5 separate regions of the Homo sapiens genome follow, and all the other regions are reported to be linked to region 1. Evidence: microRNA targets listed by miRTarBase, many of them from high-throughput screens and not tested one by one. Region 1 holds a microRNA gene; each other region holds the end of a gene's coding sequence. Distances are from middle to middle.
The links. The annotated mature microRNA hsa-miR-3123 reads CAGAGAAUUGUUUAAUC and lies in region 1 at 4,308-4,324, shown strand. An mRNA with a match to its seed (bases 2 to 7 or 8) in the 3' UTR can be bound and repressed. Matches are read on the target gene's strand: a 7mer-m8 pairs with bases 2 to 8, a 7mer-A1 pairs with bases 2 to 7 and ends in A, and an 8mer does both.

Region 2: miRTarBase lists BASP1 as a target of hsa-miR-3123. Seed matches in the 3' UTR shown: 7mer-m8 at 958-964.
Region 3: miRTarBase lists ST6GALNAC3 as a target of hsa-miR-3123. The part of its 3' UTR that is shown has no 7-base or 8-base seed match.
Region 4: the mRNA of ZC3H12B is a reported target of hsa-miR-3123. Seed matches in the 3' UTR shown: 7mer-A1 at 3,983-3,989, 7mer-m8 at 6,090-6,096 and 7mer-A1 at 6,150-6,156.
Region 5: miRTarBase lists TMEM19 as a target of hsa-miR-3123. Seed matches in the 3' UTR shown: 7mer-m8 at 3,644-3,650.

The regions. Positions count from the first base shown.
Region 1 is chr1:241,128,013-241,134,946 of GRCh38, forward strand. It overlaps MIR3123 (microRNA 3123), which reads left to right and starts at 4,260; the gene lies at 4,260-4,334. All of the region lies in intron 2 of RGS7 (regulator of G protein signaling 7), which reads right to left.
Region 2 is chr5:17,275,576-17,282,509 of GRCh38, forward strand. It overlaps BASP1 (brain abundant membrane attached signal protein 1), which reads left to right. Exons shown (of 2, transcript NM_006317.5): 2 at 1-1,259. The coding sequence ends at 325. Among named protein-coding and RNA genes, the nearest start is that of BASP1, 61 kb to the left of the region's middle. RefSeq lists an enhancer at 59-559.
Region 3 is chr1:76,628,467-76,631,466 of GRCh38, reverse strand. ST6GALNAC3 (ST6 N-acetylgalactosaminide alpha-2,6-sialyltransferase 3) reads right to left here. Exons shown (of 5, transcript NM_152996.4): 5 at 1-2,847. The coding sequence ends at 2,661. Among named protein-coding and RNA genes, the nearest start is that of LINC02567, 150 kb to the left of the region's middle.
Region 4 is chrX:65,500,853-65,507,786 of GRCh38, forward strand. It overlaps ZC3H12B (zinc finger CCCH-type containing 12B), which reads left to right. Exons shown (of 10, transcript NM_001010888.4): 10 at 937-6,934. The coding sequence ends at 2,357. Among named protein-coding and RNA genes, the nearest start is that of LAS1L, 30 kb to the right of the region's middle. RefSeq lists enhancers at 1,460-1,960, 1,961-2,461.
Region 5 is chr12:71,698,635-71,705,568 of GRCh38, reverse strand. It overlaps TMEM19 (transmembrane protein 19), which reads right to left. Exons shown (of 6, transcript NM_018279.4): 5 at 6,460-6,669; 6 at 522-4,737. The coding sequence ends at 4,574. Among named protein-coding and RNA genes, the nearest start is that of TMEM19, 16 kb to the right of the region's middle.

The sequences.
Region 1 (6,934 bases):
TCACGCCTGTAATTCCAGCACTTTGGGAGGCTGAGGTGGGTGGATCACGAGGTCAGGAGACCGAGACCATCCTGACTAACATGGTGAAACCCCGTCTCCATTAAAAATACAAAAAATTAGCCGGGCGTGTGGCGGGCGCCTTTAGTCCCAGCTACTAGGGAGGCTGAGGCAGGAGAATGACGTGAACCGGGAAAGTGGAGGTTGCAGTGAGCCGAGATTGCGCCACTGCACTCCAGCCTGGGCCACAGAGCAAGACTCCGTCTCAAAAAAAAAAAAAAGTTCAAAAAATGGCCAGGTGCGGTGGCTCACGCTTGTAATCCCAGCACTTTGGGAGGCCAAGGCAGGCAGATCACTTGACATCAGGAGTTTGCGACCAGCCTGGCCAACATGGTAAAACCCTGTCTCTACTAAAAATACAAAAATTTACCTGGCATGGTGGCGGTGCAAGCATGTAGTCCTAGCTACCAGGGAGGCTGAGGCTCGAGAAACGCTTGAACCCGGGGCGGAGGTTACAGTGAGCCGAGATTGTGCCACTGCACTCCAGCCTGGGTAAAAGAACGAGACTCCGTCTCAAAATAAATAAATAAATTTAAAAAGTTCAGAAAATATTTTATAATGTCAAAAATATAAATTACACAGTATATGTATATATGTAAATATATACAAATAATTTACATCTCTATAAAATATTTCAAAATTATTTTATAAAGCAACTTCCCAGAAATTGAGTATTTAAATGCTATTTGGACATGCAGAATAATAGGCAAAAAAAAAAAAAAAAAAAAAACTCTTCAGAGGAATAAGTAGGGAATTTCATACAAAGGGGTGATAACTCTTAAGATATTTTAGCTTTGGATTAATTTACATTTCCCTACCCCGTAATGATATGCTCCCTTGGGGCTAGAAAGAAAGCAAATTAAATACCAGTTGAACAACTAAATTGATTATTATATTGATATCCCTTCTTCAAAATGTTAACGGAAGGACAACTACTATTTATACACAATTAGCATGGAGGAGAGACGTAATTAAACATAACTTTAGATAATTTCTCCAAATTATACTCCTCTAACATTTTGAAAAAGTTTTTAAAACAGAAGTGATATAAAAACAGGTGAGCTTCTTACCCTCAGCCTCCATGCTATAAGTAACACTGAAATTCACCATAAGATTTTCTTGCAAAATGCCATAAATGACCTTGCGTGTTTAAGTGTACCACTGAGGGGATATTGGCTACTAGAAACAAACAAACAAACAAAAAAAAAACGGAACTCAAAACACTTCAAGCAGTAAAAGGTTTTTTGTTTGTTTTTAAATTTCACAAAATGAAGTAAAGTCCCGAGGCAGGATGATTTCAGATTTGGTTAAGTCAGATTCTTTCCGTATTCTGACTCTACATTCATCAGCATGGGACCTTCCCAGCCACGACATTATCACATTTTTACATGCCTGTGCCCAAAGGCAAAAATAGCGTCAACCTCTTACTTTTCCTTCCTCTAACTAGCAAAAAAGCATCGCCAGCACCCTCACAGAAGAAATCTCTTTAGGTCACAACAGCTAGAATTGCATTAAGTATATTTTATAAGCCAATAATCACCGGCAGAGAGAATAAAACAGACATAATCAACCCCCTAAAGAGCAGCAGTTCTCAAACTTGAGTGAGCACCACAGTTACTTGGAGAGTTTATTAAACGAGATTTCTGGGTGGAGCCCAGAAATCAGTAGGTATAGGGTGGGGCCCACGAGTCTGTATTTCCAAAAAACTTCCAGGTGTTACTGATGCTGCTGGTCCTTCTACAAACCCCCTGCACTGCCCTAAAGCACGTGGGAGCATCTTAGCAAAGGGGTGGGGGAGGTGGCTCAGGTAATCAACCAAAGTGCATCTGAGATCTAATATTATTTTAAAATTGCTTTTCAAGAATTCCTATTACTTCAAATTAAAGATGTAACTGAGTGTCTTCTGAGTATTTTAGAATTGCAAATTTTGATATTCTACCATCACTATGCTCCACCTCTCTGAAGCCATTACTAGGGCAAGGATATAGTGAGAAAGTTTCTGTCACTGCTAAGCAAGTGCATCCTTCAGATTGCCAATGTGTCATTGTAGTTGGAGCTATTAAACTTCTATGTGGCATGAAAATTGTTTGGCTAACTTTAAAAAGGAGAAAAAAATGGAAGTGGAGGTTAGAATTTTTCTAGCCCAGCAAGAACCCACTTGGTAACCACTTTTAGATAAAAAGCCCAAAAATAATATACTTCACCAGATGTTCCTTTAATTTTCCAGGGATTAATTTGAGAGTCAATTACCTATTTTAAGTGATTAACATAAATTAAAAAAAAAAAACACTAGGCTCTGAACCAATGCTTTTAACTGTATGATGGACCATTGTTCATTTCCGATACTTTTAAGAACTAGGATGATTTTGACACATTAAAAAATGTCCTGGAATGAATTTGCTATTCTGCTTGGCAACATTTGAGGAAGTAAATACTGCTACAAATCCTTTAGGTAGCTTTCAATTGTCCATGTCTGTTAGTGAGAAGAGGGACAGTAAGAAAAATGCTAAGGTCAAATTCACTCATGACTTCATGCCAAAAAAAAGGTATTTCTGAGTTGATAACTCTAAAATCTTTTTCTAAGTAGGGACAAGAATTACTAATAACAAACAGTGGAAAACATACTGAACTAAAACACAAAATATCTGAATTTTACAGGTCATTTAACTTCCCTGAGCATTGCTTTCTTATCTGAACCTCTAAGGATTGGATTTGGTGTTTGGTTTCTTTTTTATTTTTATAACATCCCTTTCAGATATAATCCAAAGGTGACATCTCCTTTCTCTGTCCTATCCATCTTTGATGATATGTGTTAATAACAGTTAAATGCAAAATAATAGGATAAAAGGCTTAATTACAAAAAAAAAAAAAAAAAACCAAGAGGCCAGATAATTCTACTCTGGAAGAACTGGCTGTAACATCATGATGATGGCAGCAATTTAGAAAGCCACATTAACTTTGTTACAGAGATTTATTTAACGCCAGTTTGAAGAATGACGTCTTTATGCCGATGACATGATTCATTTTTTTTTAATGAGTAAAATGTGTTTTTCTCCATTAGACTTTACTCTCTGTACCTTGAAAATAAAAATACCTTTCCAGTGTCATGCATGAGTCATATTGATTCTCAAATTAAACTAAACACCCATAGCACATAGGAAAAAAAAGCCAAATGACAATTTAGAAATGTAAGGGAATTTGAATGTCTACTCATTTACTTGAATCTAATCATTAAGATGAGGATGTTATTTCACTCTTTCTAGAACAATAGTTTTCCAACTTGAGTTTGCATCAGAATCACCAACAGGACCAGTAAAAACAGACAGCTGGACCCAACTTCCAGAGTTGCCAAGTCAGTGGGACTATGTAGGGCCTGAAAATTTGCATTTTTAACAATTTCTCAGGCTACACTGGCTGATGTTGCTGGTTGGGAACCACACTTTGAGAACTACTGTTTGTAGAAGACTGGTAAAAATTGGTAGGTGTAAGAAAGATATTCTTTTTAGATATATGTCTGGGAGCTGGGGGCAAAGTAGAAAAGCATTTAAAAAGCAAAAATGAGAGACACCTGAACTGTCATGCATTTACCAGAATTTTCTCTCATAACGTGGCAGCCTTCACTGTCCTCTTTCCTTTTTACTATTCTAAATCAAAACATTACAAATGTACAAGCTGGAACTGATTATGCATAATAGCTGATGTTACTTCACTGATTAAAAACAAAAAAGCAATAAACTTTGGCTCCCTCTGCAAGCTGCCCATAATAAAATGCAGAGGAAATATTTATTAATCAAGCAAAGACTGAAAGACATTTCGTTAATGGTCTGCCTCATCACATCAGTTTGAATCACATTACACATCCCGTTAAGAAGAGATGATGCTTAAAAATACAGAAAACTAAATGTGGCATTATCATCCATCCCAACTGGAAAATGTGATGGATTGTCCTTAATAGAAAGAGTGGTAGTCTATTCATGTGGTATGTCTCGCAAAGGACCGCCAGGCTCCAAGAGCCAAGTATTCTGATCACTTTTTCCTTAATGAGAGGCTCCCATAAACACAATTTAATCCTCTTTGAAAACCTGAGGGCTATTTTGTGTTTAAGTGGCATACACAGAGATCATTAAAATGTAAAAGAACTGTGCAGGGAGGCCCAATTTTTTTCCAGGTGGCCATGCATCAGAATTTTGTTAGAATGTAACATGGATTTGATTGAATGATTCTCCCATTTCCACATGGAGAGTGGAGCCCAGAGAATTGTTTAATCATGTATCCATGATTCAATATTCATTTATGGAGCACCTATGCTGGGCCAGAGGTACTATGAGTGGGGATGACAGGATGGATGTGACAGACAGGACCCCTGTCCCCATGCAGTTTACAGGCTATATCAGTAATTAACAAGAACTAAAATACTTGGCAAAGAGGAATGCTTCCATCAATGTTTGTTTAAATTAAAGGAAAAAAACAAACCCCACAACGAAATAATCAATACAGTTGTCACAAGTGCACAGGACAGCATGAAAGCCCATGACACATATTTTGGAGAAGAGGTACTTCCATTTTTTTTGGTGGGGGAGGTACATTAGCCTCAAATTTCACAGAATACATGCAATCTCAAAGTTAAAAAATGGGTTTTACTGTTAAGGTCTGTCAATAATTCAACTTATTATTTGTTTGTTTGTTTGTTTGTTTGTTTGTTTGTTTGTTTTAGACGGAGTCTAGCTCTGTCGCCCAGGCTGGAGTGCAGTGGCACAATCTCGGCTCACTGCAAGCTCTGCCTCCTGGGTTCACGCCATTCTCCTGCCTCAGCCTCCCAAGTAGCTGGGATTACAGGTGCCCACCACCAAGCCCGGCTAATTTTTTGTATTTTTAGTAGAGATGGGGTTTCACCGTGTTAGCCAGGATGGTCTCGATCTCCTGACCTCGTAATCCGCCTGCCTCAGCCTCCCAAAGTGCTGGGATTACGGGCCTGAGCCACTGCGCCCGGCAATTCAACTTATTAATACTAGAATACATTTTCTACAGAAAAAGTTGTGAAAAATTGTGATATAATTGTATTGTAGTACATTGTAAAAATTACAATACAAGTGAAATGCTTTTTATTTACATTTATAAAGAATAGAAAATGTAATCATAAGAAATAAGAGAAAAACCATTTTTACATAAAATTGAATATAAACAGCAATAAATGAAATCGACTATATATCAATTTGATAAACCACAGAGAAAAAAATAATTATTTCAAATAATTTTTGAAAATAGTTCTTTGACCCATTTTAATGGGATGTATAAGTCTAAGGGCAAAAAAAAAAGAAAAGGTCTGAAAGCATACCTTAAATTTATTAATGGGTTTGTTAGTAGTGATATTCTAATTTTGAGACAATATTGTAGAAAACTAAAGAGATAGGTTGATAATATTAGCCACCATAATTTTTTTTCTAAGGGAAAGGAGATACAAATATAAAAAAAAAGAAACCAAGAAAAAGAACACTCATAATATTAATTTTCTCCCACTTAATTTTTCTGTAATACTAAATTTGAATTGAAAAATATAGTGTGAACCAAAGATTATAAACGTAATTTCCCTTAGGGTTTCTACTGAAAGGGTTTAGAAACATTGACACAGTAGCAACAAGCAAATTTAGTTCCCTGATCCTGGTTTCTAAATACCATTCCTTACAGAAACAACAAACAAACAAAAAACAAACCAGTTAATACCAAGTTTAGGTTTGGTCAAGGTGAACTGGTGACAATTTGTTGTGCCAAACACTAATTTAAATCAAACTATGTGAAAGAATTCAAAAACTAGCTTCAAAAAGCATTCATGAGTTCACAATAAGAAACAGGGAGAGAGAGAGGCAGAGGGAGAGAAAGAGAGAGAGAAAGGGAGACAGAGAATGAATGAGATGCCCTCCAGCAAAGGAAAGCAGTAAGTCCACGACATCATCTATCCTTGCCAAAATGTCTATCCTGGATCTAATAAAGCATCCCATCCTGCACTGCCCAATATGGTAGCCATTAGCCACATGTGACTGTTTAGATTTAAATTTAGAATAATTTAAGTTAAACAAGTTAGAATTTCTTTTCCTCTATCATCCTAGCCCTCTCACATATGGCTGGTGGCTACTGTATTGGGTAGCACCAACGAAGAACAGCCATCCTCACAGCAAGATCTGTCGGGCAGTGCTGCTCCAGACCTATCTTCCAAATTATATGGAAACCAAGAAACCAAGTTAAATGACACTACGGGGAAACCATATGACAAATCCAGACTGACAGAATGCCGTGGGACTTCTACTAGACTATTAGCCTGAACTCTTCCAAAAGTAAATTGTGTTTGTGTGTGTGTGGTGTTTGAACACCTACATATGTATATAAAATGCAATTATTATTGTATACTACAAAGATGTAAGAGAGGTAACAACCAAATGTAATGCGTGAATCTGGACTGAATACTGAATTAGAAGGAAATCTGGAGAAATCTGAGAATAGAATGGATATTAGATGACTATCCCCACACCTACGCCATAGAAGCGGAAGTCACTCTTGTTGTTTATAAAAGGCCCACGAGGGAAAGTGCCCTACTTTTTCCCAGAGAGGGGAGGGGCTTGCGGGAAATGAATGGGAGAGAGTTGAAGCAGAGTGCTGAGAAGAGGGAAAGATTTACCATAACTGGAAAGGAAAAGGAGTTTTACTAGTTCCTCACTGAAAGATTGTCCCCGGGGCCTGAAAGCTTGAAGAGATGAGAAACTCCTCCCCTTTCAGGCCCAGTCCCAAGGCGCAAGGCCACTTACAGTAATCAGCAGCGTGGGTCAGCAAGACAGCGGAAGCAGGACGACAGCCGGCCGGAAGACACCTACCCCGGCCGGAAGAC
Region 2 (6,934 bases), not on the chromosome of region 1:
CAAAGCTGCTGAGGCCGCCGCGGCCCCGGCCGAGAGCGCGGCCCCTGCCGCCGGGGAGGAGCCCAGCAAGGAGGAAGGGGAACCCAAAAAGACTGAGGCGCCCGCAGCTCCTGCCGCCCAGGAGACCAAAAGTGACGGGGCCCCAGCTTCAGACTCAAAACCCGGCAGCTCGGAGGCTGCCCCCTCTTCCAAGGAGACCCCCGCAGCCACGGAAGCGCCTAGTTCCACACCCAAGGCCCAGGGCCCCGCAGCCTCTGCAGAAGAGCCCAAGCCGGTGGAGGCCCCGGCAGCTAATTCCGACCAAACCGTAACCGTGAAAGAGTGACAAGGACAGCCTATAGGAAAAACAATACCACTTAAAACAATCTCCTCTCTCTCTCTCTCTCTCTCTCTCTATCTCTCTCTCTATCTCCTCTCTCTCTCTCCTCTCCTATCTCTCCTCTCTCTCTCTCCTATACTAACTTGTTTCAAATTGGAAGTAATGATATGTATTGCCCAAGGAAAAATACAGGATGTTGTCCCATCAAGGGAGGGAGGGGGTGGGAGAATCCAAATAGTATTTTTGTGGGGAAATATCTAATATACCTTCAGTCAACTTTACCAAGAAGTCCTGGATTTCCAAGATCCGCGTCTGAAAGTGCAGTACATCGTTTGTACCTGAAACTGCCGCCACATGCACTCCTCCACCGCTGAGAGTTGAATAGCTTTTCTTCTGCAATGGGAGTTGGGAGTGATGCGTTTGATTCTGCCCACAGGGCCTGTGCCAAGGCAATCAGATCTTTATGAGAGCAGTATTTTCTGTGTTTTCTTTTTAATTTACAGCCTTTCTTATTTTGATATTTTTTTAATGTTGTGGATGAATGCCAGCTTTCAGACAGAGCCCACTTAGCTTGTCCACATGGATCTCAATGCCAATCCTCCATTCTTCCTCTCCAGATATTTTTGGGAGTGACAAACATTCTCTCATCCTACTTAGCCTACCTAGATTTCTCATGACGAGTTAATGCATGTCCGTGGTTGGGTGCACCTGTAGTTCTGTTTATTGGTCAGTGGAAATGAAAAAAAAAAAAAAAAAAAGTCTGCGTTCATTGCAGTTCCAGTTTCTCTTCCATTCTGTGTCACAGACACCAACACACCACTCATTGGAAAATGGAAAAAAAAAACAAAAAAAAAACAAAAAAATGTACAATGGATGCATTGAAATTATATGTAATTGTATAAATGGTGCAACAGTAATAAAGTTAAACAATTAAAAAGAAGTAATAAAGACTATTGGGTTTTTTGTTCTGTTTGTTTTACTTTTCTAGTCCCCTTCAATAACTACTTTATCAGAGAACAGAGCACTGTATTGGCCATTTTTCTGAATATATTTGGATAGAAGTAAAAAAATAGACCAGGGACGGTGGATCACGCCTGTAATCCCAGCACTTTTGGAGGCCGAGGCAGGTGGATGGCTTGAGCCCAAGAGTTGAGGACCAGCCTGAGTAAGATAGTGAGACCCCACCTCTATTTAAAAAAAAAAAAATGCCAACATTATTTGTTGAAAAAAATAGCTAGGGCAATGTCAGTAAACTATCTCAGAAGAAGTTAAACTGAAAACTTACTGCATCTATGCATATGCACCCTCTGAAAATGTAACTAATTAAGAAGAAGAAAGATTTTGAATAAAACACGTTAAAAGACAATAAATAGATTTGATCTTGAAGGCTGGGGAAAAAATGAATGACAGGATCTTATAGAAACCTGTGTTTGTAAATTGTGGCACCACTAATGGTTATTCTGTTCTATCCCATCCCCTATTTTTATTTTTATCATATTCATGGTAGAGCCAGGAAAGGCCACCTGAGAATTGTGCTATGAGACAGCAGTGATGCGGAAGCAAGCATGGAGCCGGCCTTTATGGTGACCGGATTTCGGTCCTGATTTTGCCACTAGTGACTTGGATGGGTTTTAAGTCACTTCCAACCTTCCCAGACCTTCCTTGCTTTACTTACAAAAGGGTGTAGCCTTTATGATCTCTGAGGCAAGGTCCCATTTAATGGTTTGGGTACATACCCGGTGACAATTTAATGTCACGATGCATAGGTATGCACAGACTGATGGGATGTCTCTTCCATGTCTTGATTCTCCAAAACTCACAGAGTAATGAATAACAATTTCATAGTTTAGAAAACTCCGACATAGGAAATGTCCTGTGGAATGTGTGAAGGCCAGTGTAATGGAATTGATTCTCAAAGGGACATTAATGACACAATGGATTCAGACGAACCTGGTTCCATTCTTACGGGTTACATTACACATGGTTAAATAAAAAAGGGAAAAAAATCTTTGAGTATTTTGGGAGTAGCCTATAGTCTGTCTCTTACCTCATTGGGAAAGAAAAAGTGGTGAAAGTGAGGATTATGTAAGTATTATACCCGTTGGGTTCAACTGGTATTTATGATCATTTTTTGGCACTTTGGGTTCTTGTTTCTATAGTGAGATAAATTTGAATTCTTAATGCTTGAAAGCACAGCATACAAGAAATCTGTAAACACAGTAACCACCAGGCAACTGTTTTACATAAGGAAAAAGAAGGGGAATGTCCAGGTAATTACCCGCGTGTCCTCGCATATACAAAATAGCTTGGGGGCCGGTGATGGTGATGGAGTGGTAAAAGATTCAGTGAACCATGGAGGACATTTATATAGTTACTGATTAAATGCCATGCATTTATTGCAGAAAAATATGCTTGGTGGAAGTAATATTTTATATATTCACTGTCTTCCCCACTTCCCCTTCTTCTAATAAAAAAAATGCTAAGCTTTTTGGTAATTAGAACAATCAAATCAGCCTCCCAGATTAGCATTTATTACTACAAATTGCCATTTTTTGAATAAATGAAACTGAGACATTTTTCTGAATTTATTTGGAGTTGCAGAGTAGGAGAATTAAAATCTGAGCTATATATATTTATTTTTCTTTTTTATAACTCCATTAGGTGTTGAAGCAACTAAAAAGTGTTAGAAATATAGTCACCAAAATGTTTAAATCAGAATTTTAACCTAGCCATGGTTCATGACATTGAATTTTACCATACTGAAGAAAAAAACTTGAGCTGTAGTTTGAAGTTGTATATGCAGCAGAAAATGTAGTACGTGTGGGAGTAATTGGCTCAGCCAGGAAGGGAACAATGTTGGGCCATGTTAATTTGGATTAACCTAGATTGTTCTTGCCTCATGAATGATTTAAAATGAAGAGAAGGGACTGCACAGCCTGTGCTGAACAGGCAAGTCAGAACCATCGGGGAACTTACCGCATATTTGCTTCACTAACTTAGGCATGTCCCTCTCCTCTATGAAGAATGAAGTGTTCCAGGGTCTAACGTTCATTTACTGGGTGCCTTTGTGCGTACTGCAAGGAGGAAACTATGAGGAATCCAGAGGAACTTGTACAGGGATGCCAGGCTTGTCCCTCCACTTTGAAGATTCTTTTCCGTAGCTGATGCCGCCTCTGCATGATGGGAATGGACTCTGGTCCCCAAGAGCTGGCATGTGCCATGCATCCCAGGATGGCCCTTCCTGGTCTCAACCCTGAGAGAAGGCCATCTTCAGTCTGTTCCTGGCAATATGGAGGCAGAGGTGGTACTGGCACTCCCGGAATGTCATTCCCCAGTCTTGGAGAATCTTCTTTCTCTCTGGAATCAAGACGTAGGTCTAGTGGACAGTAAGGACTTGGTTGTCAACTACTTGCGCTGACAAGACCTAGACATACTTTAGCTGGGTAACTTCTTTACCTAAGTTGGGTAAATCATTAGGTACCAGCATAGCCAAGAGTACTTACTGCATTGCTAACAGGAAGTTTGTTTTCGTAAAGCATCCTGGGACTTTAATTTTCCTTGAATGAAACATCATGGTATAACAAAACACAGTATCTTCACTGAAACAGGCACATACTAGTTAGTGTCCATGATCAGAGCTAACTATAGGACACCGATCTTAAGTGTTCTTTCATAGATAGGAGGCATATACATATCCAGCAAATTTCAGTCAGGTTTCATCTATGAAAAAAACTCATTTATGAAATTTCCTATTTTGGTGTTTTCCGGTTTCTTGTCTCAAGATTGATGGGATTAATCTCCATCCTTTTGATTTCTATTCTGCTATTTGGGAAGGTAACTGGAGTTATTTTGAGCTTTGTTTTAGCTAATTTGCATAATAATGAAAACTGGATGCTCAGGAGGTAATCTTAAAAATGTACCAAATGGCAGTACCACTAGTAGTTGTGAGATTAATCAGGTGAGCTTTTACATTTATCCTCATAAAAGGAGGCACAATTTGCTTGATTTGTAACTGACACTGATTTGGTTTACTAAGTAGTTAATATTTTAAATATTTAGCTCAGAGAGTGCTATTTGGCCAGAGTGTCATGTATTTTCTCAATGCTATCTCCTCACAGAAAAATTAAAAGGGCAATGTAGGGAGTTTTTCATGAAGCTATATTTCTTTGATTTTTTTATAAATGCTATCTCTTACCATGATTCTATATGCTTTCTACTGTTTCTTTTTGTTTGTTTGTTTTTAAATTTTTTTTTAGAGAGTCTCACTGTCACTCAGGCTAGAGTGAAGTGGTGCAATCATAGTTCACTGCAGCCTCAAACTCCTGGACTCAAGCGATCCTCTTGCTTTAGCATTCTGAGTGGCTAGGACTGCAAGCAAGCACCACCAGGCCCAGCTAATTTTTTTCTTTTTTTTTTTTTGTAGAAACTGGGGTCTCACTATGTTGTCCAGACTGGTCTCCAACTCCTGGGCTCAAGTGATCCTTCCCAAAGTGTTGTAATTACAGGCCTGAGCCACCATGCCCAGCCTCAATCTTTTTAAGGACAAAATTTATTAGTAGTATATAAAATCTCAAAGTCCAGGGAATCATGGATTTGGTACATTTCTCCAAGTTTCCTCAGTCTTCATTTTATTAAAAGCATTATTCATTCTGAAGCTATATGCTTCCATTCACATACATATTTAAGGAAATTCCTGAGGGAAATAACTTTGAAAAAGAACTACAATCATAAAAAAAAAAAAAATAGTGCAACTGTACACACTGAAATAAATAAACCAAGTAAAAATCTCATACCTATCTCCTTATCTCTTTTTATTATTTTTTAAATTTTTATTTATTTATTTAAGACGGAGTCTTAAACTCTTTCACCCAGGTTGGAGTGCAGTGGCAAAATCTGGGCACACTGCAACCTCCTCCCAGGCTCAAGTGATCCTCCAGTTACTCAGCCTCCTGAGTAACTGGGACTGCAGGTGCATGCCAACACTCCCGTTTAATTTTGTGTATAATATTTTTGGTAGAGACAGGTTTTTGCCATGTTGCTCAGGCTGGTCTGAAAGTTTTAAGCTCAGGTGCTCTGCCCACCTTGGCCTCCCAAAGTGTTGGGATTACAGGCATGAGTCACCATGCCTGGCCCTATCTTTTTATCTCATGTGCACTTGATTTCCATTTTTTCCTAAGGTCCATATGTCACATTTATTTTTCATTTTGTTGTCTTTGAAGGTAATTTTATATTTTCCCTGAGTTTCCCTCTGGGTCCGGGAAAATTTGTCATTAATACCATTCATTTATAATTTAATGGCTTTGTATAATGTACCCATTCCTTTTATTGCAACTCCTTGAGGTCAATGTGTTAAAATGTTAAATGGAAAAATGATGGGTTAATAACTACTTATTTAGAATCATCTAGAGAACACATGAACTTGCTTTGTTTTGTTTTGTTTTCATTTTTATTGCTTATATAGTCCAGGATTTAAGAGACTAAAATGGTCTCAATAAAAATGTTGTCTTGGGGAATTCTCATCTTAAATATAATTTTTACATATATTTCATGAATTCTGAATCAGAGTTTCAGATAATAAAAACAAAACATTGGTAGTCTTCAGGCTTCCCCGAATATCTGGGTATAGAAACTTATACCAAAGCTTAAAAATAAATATATTTTGGCCCAGACGCGGTGGCTCATGACTGTATCCCACGATTTTGGGAGGCCAAGGTGGGCAGATCACTTGAGGCCAGGAGTTCGAGACCAGCCTGGCCAATATGGCGAAACCCTGTCTCTACTAAAAATACAAAAATTACCTGGCCATGGTGGTGCACACATGTAATTCCAGCTACTGTGGAGGCTGAGGCAGGAGAATCACTTGAGATTCTTGGGGTGGAGGCTGCAGTGAGCTGAGATCGTGCCACTGCACTCCAGCCTGGGCAACGGGATGAGACTGTCTAAAAATAAAAATATACATATATACACACATACACACACACACACACACACATACACACATACACATATATAAATCATTTAGAGAGCACTTTATATATATGTATAGTTTGTAAAACTTACATATATATTTTGATAAAAAAAGAATGATCTTACAGACTGAGTTCCAAACACTAGAGGCTTATTATTGGTGATCTCACTGTCTTTTGGCTTTTTAAGCTATGAATTTATTAAAGTAGAAAATATGTTTGAATAGGCAACAAAGATTCTTGCCTTGTAATTGAATGAATTAATCTTTAATGTTGATTTGTTGTATTTAAAAGCCACACACCTGAAAGTCAGGCACATCACATAATTACTCAAAGAAAAACAGGCCCCTGTTTTACCTTGAGGAAGATTGGTTGACTTGTCACATGCTTTTGTTAACAAAAAAAGTGGGGAAAAAAAAATCCCCCCAGCCCTTCCTCTAAAAAGAAAGCAATCCTCTTAATGCAGGAGAAAGACTGCATTTCAGTACCTCAGAAACAAACCAGTTTTGAGTTTTGTCGTGAAAAGAGATGACACATGTAATTACAAGAGCCTTTTACACAGGTTGGGAGATTTGATTTGACAGTCGAACCCCATTAAAAGAAATGACTCTAAGGTCCTAAAGCAGCAGTGAACAATTTCCGTCCCACT
Region 3 (3,000 bases), 160 Mb from region 1:
AATTAGACTTTGCATTTTCACTAGAATTAGAAAGATGGAACAAAGAAAAACAGGAAATAAAAGCAGAGAAAAATAAGTTGTGAGATTCTATCAAAATGCTGATTATACTGGAAATTATTCAATTGAGTCTCCAAATTGAGAAAAACTTGTTTTTTTTTTTTTTTGTTTCCTGTTTGTAGAAAGAAAAAGACAAAGAAAACAACAATAAAAAGTGTAGAGTAGCAGTTTAGTTGCAAAAAGAAAGGAAAGAAAGAGGAGACGAGAGGAGAGGAGAGGAAAGAAAGCCCTTTCCCACCCCTCCTAAGAAAACACTGGAGTCTACATATTCCACACACACCTTCTGCTATAGAGTGAGGGATACAATATACTGCAGAAGTCTTCATCAGAGAAAGCTACAACGAGGCAGGAGAGCAAGCAAGTTTTCAAATGTTTCTCATCAGTAGGGGCTAGAACAAATAAGAGTTGGCCCTTCATTTATTAGAAAACTAAATAAATTAAGTTCATGTCCCAAGCCATTCTGATTAATCAAGGATTTCTTTTTATTTTAAAGTGAAACAACAGGGGGAAAAACAGTCTGTATGGCAATTTTAACATTTGTCTCTGTTTATTTTTCTTTGAGTGGGCATTTCTATCTATCATTAGCTCAAAAAAACTTAACATTCATAGAATTAAAAATTGCATAAGGGAACAACAAAAGAATAACAACTCCTTCCAACGATAGAACTGGGGCTTAGTAATGTTTATGGGTGTGAATATTGAGGTGTCAAAATTGCAGAAGAGAGTAGGCAAAAGGCCTTTATCCAAGATGGCACACTTTAATGATAGCTCACCATAATACTTAGCACTAGTAAAGACCTACAAGTGCTTCTGAAGTGAAATGTATCATTACTTCCAGTTTCCAAAACATTCTATAAGTTGAGCCTGGCTTTTGTCTTTTGAATCATTCTGCAAGGATGTTTTTGAATTCTCAGCTACTCTTGCAGCAAATCAACCCTTTACTATTTAATGAGCAACGAGTATATGAAAAATAGAATTGTCTCAATCCTAGGAAAGGAAACTATATTTCTCTGCCTTCATTTCCTCCTGTTGTCCCTGCTTTTTCATTTTTTCCCCACCTAAATAGAACCACACGTGTATATATACGTATATAGAAAAACTTCTCAAAACTACTTATTTTCACAGGGGCCCTAGCATATGGCCAAGACCATCCTTTGTGATACTTTTTGTGTAATCCTGATATAATGTATTTGGCACAGAGATCAACTGGTTACTAGTTTACATAAATTCTATTCTATACAAATATTAGCAAGTAGAGCAATCTGGAATATAACAGAACAATGACCAAATTACAGATCATCTGCTAAAGAGAGCAGAATACACAGACAATAGCCCAATGGGGTGTTCAAGGGCATCACATGGTATAACAGATGTTAAAGGACTCTAAATGACAAAGCACTTTGGACATTAAGAACATTATTATTGTTGTTATTGTGGCATAACAACTGATACACTATGGGAAAAATAAATCCCTAGAAGGCAAAAAGCTCTGGTCAGGTTTAATATAAGGAATCATTTCCTCTCCATGTGTAACAGCTGGCACTTGGCAATGAGAATGTAATGTTTGGAGAAACACACCTTGGGCCTATAAAATAGAAATTTGAATATACAAATATATATTATGAAGTATGATAGGATACAAATTGATGTAAAAATATGCTTTGCTGTCTCTATTTCATGATTTTAAAAATCATATAGTTTTGTGTTGTTGGATGTTGAAGCAGAGTTAGCAAACCCTTTGGTTACTTTTTAGGAATGTTTTCACAGTATATGTTATTACAGTGTTGAAGTTGGTATCTTACATGTTAAGTAGCCTTCTGAAATATTTAGCACTCAACCAAAAATAACTAAACATTAATATAGATCATTCTAATCACATGTTCAGTTATACTGTTGGTAGTAAGAATGGATGGTAAGAGTGGAAATTCATCAAGATTTGCTACTTGGCCCATTTTGATTTATGTGTTTGAGATAGTCAAGTAATCCTGAAGTGTAGGATGTCCATGAAATCTTCATTGTTAATTAGGCAATGGCCTGAGGCTTTAGCTGTAGGAAATACTGTAGAAAGATGGTATATTAGGAAGAGATATTTTCCCATCCTTAGGCTAAGTAGTAAGATACTTGCACCCTGATAGCAGTTCTTGGGTCAGTGTTTGACAATCAATCATTCTTCAAGATGGCGGAACTGCTGAGATTCAACAAGCCATTGAGTCAATCACCTTGCCTCATGAAGCCAAACTCTTTTGGCTTCTGGAAGTTACTCACTGTTGAACAATTCTAGGCAGCTATCTTGAAAGATAATCTTCCCATTTCTTAGGTCACAGTTGTCATGTCACTGGCCTTCATCTCAATTCCAGTTAAATTATAAAGTGCGGTACGTAGTGTTGAACCTCCAGAAAGAACATCATGAGCACAACCATCCTCCATGAAATGCCAAGTTTAAATTACTAGCAGAGTCACCATCCACATCTGAGAGTGTACAGGAACTTGATAATCATTGTTGTTGTCTTTATCATTACCATCATCTCCATTAGCATCATCAGCATCACAGTTGCAGTATGGGGATCACATTAAGTGATGCGGCAAGATCAGGAAAACCATTATCAAGACAATGTCCAGTTTGGATGTGTAAATATTATCCTGTGCTTCTTGGCCCATTTAGCAAACACTTTCTTTTCAGTGATAAACCTATGACCCCCATATGGGGCATGTTCATGAAGAAAATATTCATCACACTCATCTCTTCCTTGTTCATAATAATGGTAGGGGACTTTTCTATACCCTTCTGTCCTAGAAAAGAAAAAAAAAGAAAAGGAGAGAAAGATTGAGATGAAGAATGAAGCACTCATTTACAAGAATCCATTATGTGCCCAGTAAATGCATTTACTCACAAACCCATACATGATTCTTGTCCATGAACTCAGTTAAAAGCTATTATATGTA
Region 4 (6,934 bases), not on the chromosome of region 1:
TGAGGCTACTTTGAATGTCTGTTTTTTTGGATGATCATTTGTTTTGTGGGGTGTTTTGGTTTTTGTCCTCAATTAATCTTTAAGTCACACAGTATTTTCATATTCATTATCTCATTTAATCTTTACAATGACCCTATAATATAGGCATGATGATGAACTTTGGTTACAGAAGAGGAAAATGAAGCTCACAAAATAAAGTCACTTACCAAGGTCACACAGCTAGTAAGGGACATAGCTGGAATTGAAATTCAGATCTGACTGGACTCCAAACCTGTGCTCTTTGCATTGCACTATGCTGCTTTCTGTTACTCTATGCTGCTTCAGCATGCAGATTATGCCTAGGCAAAGTTGTACATTATCGAAAAATTAAAACTGCTCAGCTTTAGCTTTTTTTTTTTTTTTTTTTTTTTTGAGACAGGGTCTTGCTCTTGCTCTGTCACCTGGGCTGGAGATCAGTGGCATGATCACGGCTCACTGCAGCCTTGACCTTCCAGGCTCAAGAATTCTCCCACCTCAGGCTCCTGAGTAGCTGGGACTGCAGACGTGCACCACCATGCCCAGCTAATTTTGTTTGTATTTTTCTTTACAGACGGGGTTTCACAATGTTGCCCAAGCTGGTCTCGAACTCCTGGGCTAAAGTGATTCACCCACCTCAGCCTCCCAAACTGCTGGGACTACAGACAGGAGTCACCACATCCAGCCAGCTCTTAGCTTTTATGCTGCAATTTTCTCCATAGCTTTCCACTTTCTCTCTCCCATCACAGTGTATGATGCCTCCTTGGTGTTGTCTGTCTCTCATCTTTGTGGACAGTTAATTTTCTGCCTTTACCCCAAACAGTAAAACCCTAACCTGAGTGACCAGATTGTTACAACAGTTTTTGGCACAGAGGGTTCCATCACTGAGAGAGAGTCTTACCCCAAGGCATTATTTTTCAGGCAAAAAATGCACCTACGGCCACAAGTGCAAATACTACCATCCGGAGCGGGCCAACCAACCCCAGCGTTCGGTGGCTGATGAGCTCCGCATCAGTGCCAAACTGTCCACAGTGAAAACTATGAGTGAAGGCACCCTGGCCAAGTGTGGCACAGGGATGTCTAGTGCCAAAGGTGAGATAACCTCAGAGGTCAAACGTGTGGCCCCCAAGCGCCAATCAGATCCCAGCATCCGGTCTGTGGCTATGGAGCCTGAGGAATGGCTGTCCATTGCCCGTAAGCCTGAGGCTAGTTCTGTCCCCTCGCTTGTGACTGCCCTAAGTGTTCCCACAATCCCACCCCCCAAAAGCCATGCAGTGGGTGCACTCAACACCCGTTCGGCCAGCAGCCCAGTGCCAGGATCCTCCCATTTCCCCCACCAGAAGGCCTCTTTGGAGCATATGGCCAGCATGCAGTATCCTCCCATCTTGGTTACCAACAGCCATGGGACCCCTATTAGCTATGCTGAGCAATACCCAAAGTTTGAATCCATGGGGGACCATGGCTACTATTCAATGTTAGGTGACTTCTCCAAACTGAACATCAACAGCATGCATAACCGAGAGTATTACATGGCTGAAGTAGACCGGGGGGTGTATGCCCGGAATCCTAACCTCTGTTCTGACAGCCGTGTGAGCCATACCAGGAATGACAACTATTCCTCTTACAACAACGTGTATTTGGCTGTAGCTGATACCCATCCTGAAGGCAATTTGAAGCTGCACCGCTCAGCATCCCAGAACCGACTTCAGCCTTTTCCTCATGGTTACCATGAAGCCTTAACACGAGTGCAGAGCTATGGCCCAGAGGATTCTAAGCAAGGCCCCCACAAACAGTCAGTCCCCCACTTAGCTCTGCATGCCCAGCACCCATCAACTGGAACACGTTCCAGCTGTCCTGCAGACTACCCCATGCCTCCCAATATCCATCCTGGGGCAACCCCCCAGCCAGGCCGTGCCCTGGTGATGACTCGGATGGATAGCATTTCCGACTCCCGCCTCTATGAGAGCAACCCCGTGAGGCAAAGACGACCTCCCCTGTGCCGGGAACAGCATGCCAGCTGGGACCCGCTGCCCTGTACAACTGACTCCTATGGCTACCACTCCTATCCCTTGAGTAACAGCCTCATGCAACCATGTTATGAGCCAGTCATGGTACGGAGCGTGCCTGAAAAGATGGAGCAGCTTTGGAGGAATCCTTGGGTTGGAATGTGCAATGATTCCAGGGAGCATATGATCCCAGAACACCAGTATCAGACCTACAAGAACCTCTGCAATATTTTCCCTTCTAACATCGTCCTTGCAGTGATGGAGAAGAATCCCCACACAGCAGATGCCCAGCAACTGGCAGCCTTGATTGTTGCTAAGCTTAGGGCTGCACGTTGATATGACATAGTACTTATTTCTTTATACAAATATGAATATTAATACTAATAATACACTAATACAATAATTATAGTAACTAATAATTTGTGTTGCGCTTTACAAGTTAGAGTGTTTATATCATTTAAGCGCTTAACAACCCTGTGAGGTACGTCTTACTAACATCCTCTTTTATAGAGAAGGAAGGTGAAGGTCAGTGAAATTAAGTGGCTAGCCAGGGTCACACTGCTAGCAAATGACTAAGTCAAGACACACACCCAAGTCCTCTAAATCCAAGTCCCATGCCCCTTTGCACTGCACCATGCAGGTAATGGAGGACAAAACCCAGGGGGAGAGGTCTAGATGTAAGAAATCCCAGAGGATTCCATTACCAGAGTTTTCCTTTTTCTCTTTTCGTTTCTTTCTTTCTTTCTTTATTTTTTTTTTTTGAGACAGAATCTCACTCTGTTACACAGGCTGGAGTGCAGTGGCACTATCTCTGCTCACTGCAACCTCCACCTCCAGGGTTCAAGTGATTCTATGGCCTCAGCCTCCCAGGTAGCTGGGATTACAGGCGTGCACCACCATGCCCAGCTAATTTTTGTATTTTTAGTAGAGACGTGGTTTCACCGTGTTGGCCAGGCTGGTCTCAAACTCCTGGCCTCAAGTGATCCGCCCACCTTGGCCTCCTAAAGTGCTGGGATTACAGGTGTGAGCCACTGCGCCCAGCCTACCAGAGTTTTCGTAGTCACATATTCTATATTACAAAGTATGGATGATATATCCAATTTAGAGAGCAAAAGCATCAGGATCAGATCATATGTTGAATTAACCTTTTAGGTTTTTTCTAATAGAAATATTTAAAGCTATTTAAAAGTAAATGCATACTTTATTGCATGGATATCTGATCACTCAATCTATATTAATGAAACTATAGGGTCACATTGAAGCTTCTAGAACTATATTTTAAAGCTATTATTAGCAATTATATTGCATGTATGAATATATATATTTGGTTTGAGATGTGTGTGTATCTCTGTATAACCTTTTATATAGTGATAATGAGAGGGTAGGCTCTACACAGTCCTTCGTCTATAGCTGTATAGGTCACTAATCTGACTTGATGATTTTAAGTCACATTTCATAGTTTTAACTAGTTATGAGAGAGAAATTATATGGCAATATTTGAACATTGCTTTCTTAGGCACCAGAGCAAAGCAACTCTGTTTCCTTTGCACATTTTACCTGCCAACATTTATTAACAGTTCTTACCTTCCAAGTCTCTTCACCTTAGCAAATTAGGGATCAGGTTGCAGTCTTCTGCAGAGAAACTGATGGTTAAGCTCAAGTTCCAAGCATAGTATGTGTGTGCTACACAAGCTCAGAAGAGTTTGACAAGGACCAGGGGACTTACTACCACAATCCACTTCCCTTATCCCAGGAGAGATGGCCAAACCCATGTGGCATTAAATGGTGAATAAAAAAGCTTCACTCAAGGAGGGACTATTGGATGCTCTTTGGACTTCTGACCTATGCAGTATTCAACATCATTGGATGAAATGTAATGGAGGACAGTGCACAGCCATGTATCCACTTTCTCTTCCTGTCCACCCTTTGGGTAATAAGGTCAATCATTGGTGGAACAGAATTTCTCTAGGAAACAAAACCAGGGGATTTTATTTGTGGAAAAAGGAAGTTTCCAAAAGGGGATACTGCATCTTTACTAATAGCTGGCTCAGTTACTCACTTTAAATCCATGCAAAGAGTGCACTTGCTGTTAAATAATTGTTAAATGAGTTATTAGAAGGCAGGACTTTTGGTTTGGGCGACACCATTTGCGCAACTTGTATCTTGCTCAGGGTGGAAAACTTCATAGCTAAATGCCTCTAGAAGAGGTGTTTATTGTTTTTTTTAAGCTGCACTAAATGAATTCCCTTTTTGAATCCATTGTATATTTCAATATTTCGAACCATGATCAGCTCACTATTTCCTGAGCTGGAACTTGCTAACTTCTATGATCGTTTTTTCATGAAAGTTGAGAAGGCCGGGCCTTGGCCTTTTGTTTCTTCATGAGAAGGTGTGACACTGCCTATAAATGTTTCTTACTGTGAAACACTCTGAATGTGAGGCTGTAGTCAGGGTTGTTTCTGGTGGTTTGACAATGGCTTGCATGCTGCTTTCTGGCTTTCTGTCTCTGTCCAAGTTGATCAATACTGCATCTTAACCAATGTTTCACTTGAGTTAACCACAGCTTTACATTCTATCTCCTATCTTCTGATCTTCGTATACCCCAGCATATTGAAAAAGAGTAAAAGTATTTTCTATCAATCAGGTAGATCCACAGAGTGACAGTTGCCACTGCAGTGCTTGCTATTTCACACAAACACCATTTCATACCTTCAACTTCTTGGACTTTCTAAATCGGACTCGTGTCTAAATCAGGGTATTTGACAATCTCAGATGATGCTACTGCCTATGTGCCAGTTAGTTCATCTTCCTACCAAGATCATGAATGGCACCACACTATCCACTAGCTGTACAATTTACAGAGAAGCACAAGATTCATCTTGTCACCTACAATTCGTCTTGAACATGTTCATATTTAGTACTCAGAAACTGTGTAAGCTCCTCCCAATACAGAAAATATTTTTTAAGGCAGCATATGTATTTCTGATTTACTAAAAACGATTGTCATTCTCCTCTCATTCTTCTTTTTGGTATGAACCAAAAGCGGCTAGGAGCAATGCCTCAAATAACCAGAAATGACCTTTTGTTGATACAAATTGTATCTCTTTTTTTCCTGATTGTATAGAAACAAATGTACAAAACTCATCTGAAGCTAGGTTTGGCACTGAATTTTCACCATGAGGTTTGTGGCACTGTGTGTCACAGGGAAGTAGCTCAGGGGTTGTGAGGGAGCTTTTATTTCTAAAGGGCAGTAGTAATTTATAGACAAAAACAATTTTTCAAGGCCTCTTTATTACCACTGCACAGCTATCATGTGTAAAATTTCAAGCATTATATTGCATAAGTTCTCTTTAGCCTATTAAATTTAATATGTCCTTGCAAAAGGGATTTTGTGTAAAAAGTGTCAGTGTTAGTGACTCATCTGCAAGAATCTACAAATGGAGCTATACAACTATGAATACATAAATACAGCATGGTTCCTAGTTATTAGAGAAACATTTTCTTTATATTGAGGTCTACGCACTTCTTGACTTTCCATTTTGTCTGTAATTATAAAACAGCAAATAACAAAGAAGCATTGGGACCCCCTCGGCTGCCTTGATAATAAAATCAAGCTTCCTTCATGGGACTAAGCATGTGTCCTTCAGGATACTTACCTCTAAGCACTCAGCAGGGGTTACTACAAAGCGTTTTGTGTGGTTTTCAAAAAACAGTGTATTTTGCAAGAGGTGCTTTGTAATTTTAATTATTTCACTGATTTTCTGACCTCATAGGAAGTCTGTGCCTGTTGAGGCCTTCAATTTTGTAGCTTTTCTGATTTTTTTTCTTCTTTTTGTGATTTTGTTGTTGTTTTCATTTTGATCTAAAGGAGAAGTGTGACCCCGGAGTGGCATGGTCAATCCAGGGCACCCTTTCTGTAAGACAACTCAAAGGAAAAGAAGCCTTTTCAAAGGTAATATCGAGCCATTGCACTCTCTCTTAAGGTGCCAGGTATGGGAGAATGACAGATGCCTTATGGAAATGGTCTACAAAACTTTTCTTCTTCTAAGTAATAAAACACATAGCATGATTCTCTCTCCCTCTCTCTCTCTCTCTCTGCCCACCCCCTGCTAGTTTCCAGGAGAATACTTCTCTAAAATTCATTTTTTTCTATTTTGGAATAAATTATCTTTATACAGTAATTCAAACACTGATTTCCATTAACCTTTGGCCCTGAGTTTTCTTCTAACATAGAAGAGTTCATTTTGAGAGGCACTCAGTTACCATTCAATCTGTGCTGTAAGTATGGGACTTTGTACAAATGCCCTTTTTGAGGGCCAAAAATTTCAATACACTTTGTTCTACTTTGTGAACCAGGTCTGGATCTGCACAGAGAAAGTAATGCTGAGCTGTCCAAAGAGTCCGCTCAGGTCTCCCTCCTAACCCTCCTCTGCCTTCCCCTAGTTTGCTTATCCTCACGTCTGACACTGAGGAGTGCATAGTCTTCAACTGAAATGGCACTACAGTTAGTTCTCATTGGAAACAAACAAGTGTATTTCTGGAACCTGCTCGTCTAAAATAGTCAATGCCTTTGTAAAGACTCAGCATATTCAATATCTATTGTATGGTAGCTAGCTATATACATAGATTGACTATTTTTAGTCCTGGTTTGTGTATTGTTGAGCTATAGTAGTTTGCTTTATCCATTTGTGGGATTAAACAATACTGTTTAATGGTTGTAAACTTTTATAAAATCTCTTTGGGTTTTTTGTTTGACCCAAACATAATGTAAGTCTTAATGACAAAATACACAAAGTTAACCAGAGGTGAGTGAAAATATAGCCCTTCCCCAGTTTTGTCTGCCCCTATAATGCACGTGCATTGCTTTGTAATATGCTCTCGCTAGCATGAATGTGCTATGACTACTTCATGAG
Region 5 (6,934 bases), not on the chromosome of region 1:
TGGAAGGCTGAGGTGAGAAGATCACTTGCGCTCAGGAGTTCAAACCCATTATGGACAACATAGGACATAGTCTGGATTCATCTCTGCAAAAAATTAAAATAAAAAAAAAAAGTAGCCGGGTGTAGTAGTGCAAGTCTGTAGTCCCAGCTACTTGGGGGCTGAGGCGGGAGGATGACTTGAGCTGAGGAAGTTGAAGCTGCAGTAAGCTATGACTGTGCCACCGCACTCCAGCCTGGGCAATAGGGTAAGACCCTGTCTCAAAAAAATAAAAAATAAATAAAAATAAATCTTGTCTAGATTCACGATTAGATCTACAAAAAAAAATTTTTTTTTTGAAGAGGGCAGTTATGATAAATGGAGAGTGAAGTCTTGTCAGAGAAAATAATTTCAAGCCTCGCCCTGCCACTCCTTCACTTCTTCAATAATTTCCTGGCTCATTAGTTTCAAAAGCATTAATATTGTTTTGCATGATTGAAAAATGCTGGAAACATTCCAGTTCTCAGAAATTCAGGTAGCCAAACTGGTTTTTCATTTTGTATTTTCCTCCAGGAATATGGTGCTGATTATCACCTTCCAGTCATTCTTAAAAGAAACAATGATTAGAGTCAAACAACTTAATTCAATGAATACATATTGAATGCTTAAGTATTTTTAAAATATCAAGAACCACTTGGAGTTATAAAAACAGATACTCCATAAAGGAGATTAAATAATTAAGCCACATAATTGTGTTTTCCTTTTTTTTTCAAGATGGAGTCTTGCTCTGTCACCCAGGCTGGAGTGCGGTGGCACGCTCTCTGCTTACTGAAACCTCTGCCTCCTGGGTTCAAGTGATTCTCACGCCTCAGCCTCCTGAATAGCTGGGACTACAGGCATGCGCCACCATGCCCGGCTAAGAGATGGGGTTTCACTGTGTTGGCCGGGCTGGTCTTGAACTCCTGACCTCGTGATCTGCCCGCCTCGGCCTCCCAAAGTGTTAGGATTACAGGCATAAGCCACCTCGTCCGGCTGTGTTTTCATTTTTAAAGCACACCACAATTCACCTGAGATCTGGTGGCTAGTATAGATCATTCTCATTGTGATAGCACTGGGAACATTACATAAAACTTCAGGAAGATCAGATGATTGGGCCCTAGTATACCCACTGTGCCTAACAGGCAGCAGCTGTTCATATCACAGGTATGCGGCAAAGTTTAAAACATCATTTCACATGCTTTTTCTCTATACTAGTCCTTTATCTAATTGGGGCGGGGCTGCTATTTCTGCAGGCAGCATCCTATGTGTACAGCAGCTAGAAACAGGAAAGATATATGTGAGAAACAGATAACTCAAGTAATGAGAAAAGCTAATAATAGAATGACCTGCTGTATCAATTCTTTGGTCTCTTGGTGGCTCCATTTAATGAGTTTTCAACATGCTACTCCTGCAAGTCTTCTTCAGGAGCTGCCCCAAGCCACATATATCTGCTCTCTTCTATCATGGAACAGTATGATAAGAAACAGTACACCTTTATGCTGCTAGGTAGGCAGTTTTATTATGCTGTTACATAGAGCTCTTTCCATGAAAAGTGATTTTAACATGAACTGCCCATTCTGCAAAGAGGAAAAATATGTTGAATTAGTTAAATATCCAATTCAAAAGATGTTACAGTAAAATACATGTAAGACTTAACAAAAAAAAAAAAAAAGGACAGAGACACAATTTCTTATCCTCAATTCTCATCTCCAAAAAGCTATGAAAACCAGTTTATTTACAAAGCTTGGTGACAAAACCTGACCAAACTTGATCTGAGGCTCTTTATGATCTTTAGTTATACTTAGTGGGGATGTTCATAAATCACCACAAAAATAGGAGTATATTTGATAATGAGCTGCCATCCCAGACTTTTTTTTAGTAGTTTTGAGTGAAATATTTTACACAGATCCTATTAGTTTTTGAATAGCTCAAAAATTTTGATGCAAAACACAGCTAGACCTAAGTTTTCAAATAAAGGACTGCAAAGCAGTACTTCCCCAAACTGTTAATGATACAGTGATTCTACTAAATTCAAAGACAGTCCCAATAAATATTTTTGTCCCCTTGTATGTCATGAGGATAAATCTCCAGGGAAAAAAAGGGCATGTCAGAACGATGTGCAGGCTGTGTGAAAACTGACACATGATTTTATAAATGATGTAGCTGTAAGACACTGTGTCATTACCAGAAGTTATTCATCCATAAAGATAACATATTGTGTGGTTGCTAATAGTTATCTCCCTAAAACCGAAAAGTCCCATTCTTTTCAAGTGCTTAGATACAGTGCTTTAGGACATTCTTATGTAGTTCTAGTGCTTAGAATATTCTTTTTTTTTTTTTTTTTTTTTTTTTTTTTTTTTTTTTTTGAGATGGAGTCTAGATGGAGTCTCCCTCTGTTGCCCAGGCTGGAGTACAGTGGTGCAATCTTGGCTCACTGCAACCTCCACATCCCAGGTTCCAGCGATTCTCCTGCCTCAGCCTCCTGAGTGGCTGGGAATACAGGCACGCACCACCACACCTAATTTTTTGTATTTTTAGTAGAGACGGTGTTTCACCATGTTGGCCAGGCTGGTCTCGAACTCCTGACCTCAAGTGATCCACCCGCCTCGGCCTTCCAAAATGCTGGGATTACAGGCATGAGCCAGTGCGCCCGGCCCAGGATATTCTTATTCAGTGCTTCTCAATTTGGTTAAGCATTAGAATCTCCCAGAGAGCTTTGTAAAAATACCCATGCATGGGCCTCATTGTCCAACATTCTGACTAACTTGGTCTAGAAAGGGGCCCTGGCAACAATGTTTTAAAAACTCCTTACATGATGATTCAATGTACAGTCAGAGCTTTAAAAAGTCTCAATATCCAGGCTGTACCTTAGATCAGATAAATCAGAATTTTGCAGTGTGAAACCCAGACATCAGTACTTTTTTAAAAACATGCCCTGGTGGCTGGGCACAGTGGCTCACATCTTGTAATAGATCTTTGGGAGGCTGAGATGGGCAGATCACTTGAGGTCAGGAGTTCGAGACCAGCCTAGCCAACGTGGCGAAACCCTGTCTCTACTGAAAATACAAAAATTAGCCGGGCGTGATGGTGCACGCCTGTGATCCCAGCTACTTGGGAGGCTGAGGCATGAGAATCACGTGAACCCAGGAGGCGGAGCTGAGATCATGCCACTGTGCTGGAGTCCAGCCTGGGCCACAGTGTGAGACTCTGTCTCAAAAAACAAACACATAAACAAAAAAAGCAAACATGCCCTGGTGCTTCCAATGTATACCCAAAGTTTAACCCAATTGTTGCAACCCCCTGATCTAACTGGCTTAAAGGTTAAGGGTGTGATTGTTTTTTCTTCTGTCCTGAAGTAAGTCAGTTCTAGATCATCACCATAGTAGGGCCACCAATAAAGAATTCTAAGCATTATCCACTCTGGTGGTGGTGTATTCATAAATCCTTCCCCAGTTTCTTTAAAAAAGCAAAAGGGGCAGGAGGAAGAAGGTACAGAAATCACATGAGAAACATTTAAAAATACTTTTAGTAAAATACTCTGTACCCTGTCAAAACTCCTTTGGCACACAGTAAATCATAGTGAAGAACAAACATAGCAGAATTGCCTTAGTTGAGGCTACAGTGTAAGAGAGAATACAACTTAGAAGGTAATAATAGAAAAATCATAGCATTTTCCAGCAATTGATATGACAGTAAATTTATAAAGAAATACAATAATTTCCCAGTGACTCTTAACTGTTCAGGATGCCAGTGCTAAACCAGGTTGCCATACATAATTCAAAGAAAGCTAGAAAACACATTCCACATATTAAATTGAAGATAATTTTTGTTCAGAGAGCAACTGAAACATATAGTAAGTTATATATTTTTTAGATATAAGATAAAATTCTTTTGCTTTTAGTTAAAATGATTTTTTTCATACATTCTAATGGACATATGAAAAAGATATTTACTTTTTTTCATCACTAACCCTGAGGAAGGAAGAACAAATGTGGAGTAGGCCACAAAACTCACTAGGAACCAATCTCCACACTTTTCCCAATTGTGAATAGCAATTAATGGGAGAAGTTCAGGATACTACACTTGTTTAGGCTCCCATACACATCAGCTTAAACTATTTAAAATAGATACAACATTTGGGCAACTAGCACAGTGGCATTTCTCTGCTTCAACTGAGAACTATTTTAAATATCATCACTTTTATTTCCTACACTGGTTTAAACAAACAAAACAAAATAAGACAAAACTTGACATTGATTATGTAAGAACTTTCAGTTCAATATATAGTAATATGTAGGGACAATATAGCTTCATTGCTCAAGACTTCCATTCAGCAGGAAAAAAATGCATAAGTTCTAGGAATTCTTCTCTTTCACTAGAAAGACGCTAGCTATTACAGGGGAGTTGATGAGAGGAAAATGTGAAATCCCATCTCAATGGAATACAGGAGGAACTGGCATTTCCGCTTTGCCATTACAGTTATTATTCTTAGGATGAAAGTTGGAATTGCAAATTTAGCTGGACTCACCAGTTTCAACCTGTGGAAATGAAATAAAGTTCACCCCCTGGGCCAAAAACCCCAAGCAGCAGTTGGGAGCAAGAGGGCAATAAGAACAGAAGAAAACAGATTCACTGCGTTGTTATCAAGAATGGGTTTCCCTGCTATGTGCCTTGCCTTATTTGTTGGGCTGTTGACCACCATGCCAGTGCTTTCATCCAACCCTGGAATGGAAAAAGAAGCAAGTGAGATAGAAAACCCAAATGACTTCATTTTTTTTCTTTTCTTTCTTTTTTTTTTTTTTTATTATACTTTAAGTTCTAGGGTACATGTACTTGATTTTAAAAAAAGAACAAAATAGGCTTTTTCCTCCAAAGGAGACAATCTTTGAAAGGTTCTAAGTGACTTGCTAAATGACTTTAATGGATCATTTATATGATGAGAGACATGGGACCCTTGATTACAAATGGCCTCTTTGAATAAATGGGTTCTCAGTAATTTTCTGTCAATACCTCTGGAATTGCTTCAGAAGTGGAAGAGAGAACATGAAAAGCAGAGAGGGCATGAAACTGGCAGGTTGGGCCTGCCTTCCCAGTGGTTCCCCTCCAAGACTGATCTATGACGTCCTTGGGAGTAGGGATCATGTCTGTGGCCACAGTACTGTAAACGCAGGGTTGAGCATGGGGCTGGCACAAAGGAGGCACACAAAGATTTACAAAATCTCCCCTACTGCATGCATTTCTTTTCAACCCACTCAATGCAATCAGAAACTTCCCCAGTTAGAACCCAATTTAGAATAAAACCTACACTCTTTAAAAAACATGTTTACTGTCTGTGTGTGCGTGTAGAGTTATTGACCCTTTAGTGAGAATTAAGATCAGATTGCTTCGTCCTTAAAATCTAAATGAGACTAACAAAATGGAGAACAAATATTCTGACTGATGGAGAGGGGGAGGAAGGGCACATAGATTTTCTGAGGCATGAAGAGTGCTGGGAGGACTATACTGAGAGAACCCTTCTCTAGCCTTCCAACCTCTTCCTGATGTCAATCAAAGGAGAAACATGGTTGATGAGAGTGTGGAGCAAATACACACCTAACAGAATATGTGAGTACACTGATAGGATGGGAGAGCCTTAGAAACAAAGCACAGAAAATTTTGAGAAAAATATCTACCACTCTACCATATATCTTTTTTCTTTTTTTTTGAGATGGAGTCTTGCTCTGTTGCCCAGGCTATAGTGCAGTGGCATGATCTCGGCTCACTGCAATCTCCGCCTCCCAGGTTCATGCAATTCTCCTGCCTCAGCCTCCCAAGTAGCTGGGATTATAGGCAGGCGCCACTACACCAGATAATTTTTGTATTTTTAGTAGAGATGGGGTTTCACCATGTTGGCCAGGCTAGTCTCGAACTCCTGACCTCCAGTGATCTGCCCCCCTTGGCCTCCCAAAGTGCTGGGATTATAGATGTGAGCCACCGTGCCCAGACATCGACCATATATCTTAATGAAGCAAAAAACTCAGGGGCAAGAATAGCAAGCATGATACCACAGTAAGAAAGTAGGTCGTGTGTATAGTCAGATTTGTACAATTACTCCTCAAATGGAATAGGAAAATGAATGGAAGGAATTGTATTAAAATGATCTGATCCCAAACGTCTTGCTTTTCTGGGATTAGGTAATGGCTCACACAAAAACGTCTGTTCTCTGCACTATTGTATCTTCCCCACATGGCTTCTAATCATTGCTGCGCGGGACTAATTCTCTTTCAATTAATTTAATACAAAAGAATAAGAAAACCAAAATTGTGAAAGAGACTTTGCCCTATCATTTCTAGTCCCTCAACACCCTGTGTCTTTGGATTTGTTTTCATTGTTAACATTTTTTTCTTTCTTTTCCCTATTTCTTTAACATACCAATAAGTTGCAAGAATGAAGGAATGTTCTTACCAGTATACTGCATTGTAGCCCCTAAGTATGAGTCCACAATTGATCCTAGTAATCCAGCTAAACCACCAAATGCAATAATTGGCCACTGCGGGGCAGAAATGTCTAAATCATTCACAAAAATCAGCTGTGTGAGGAAGTATGCAATGCCCACAAAGGTACCACCAAGGAGACTGGAGACAAGGCCCACCACTGTAACTCCTCCATTGGTACCTGAAGAAGAAACATGCAGAAAATCATCCGGTTAATAATCAGCAAACACATAAAGGCAAGGACAGCAAGGTACCTATCTAATCAAGACTAATTTAAAGAAAGCATTCTCTTTAATGCAATCTAAAGACTGTAGCTTTTTAGAAAACAGTATTTTCTCCTCGGTAACTCTTGACATTTTAAGCAATGAAGCAGAATGGTTCAATGAAGCCAGACTGCCTGGTTTCAATCTTGGTTCTGCTTCTCTCTCTCTCTCTCTCTCTCTCTC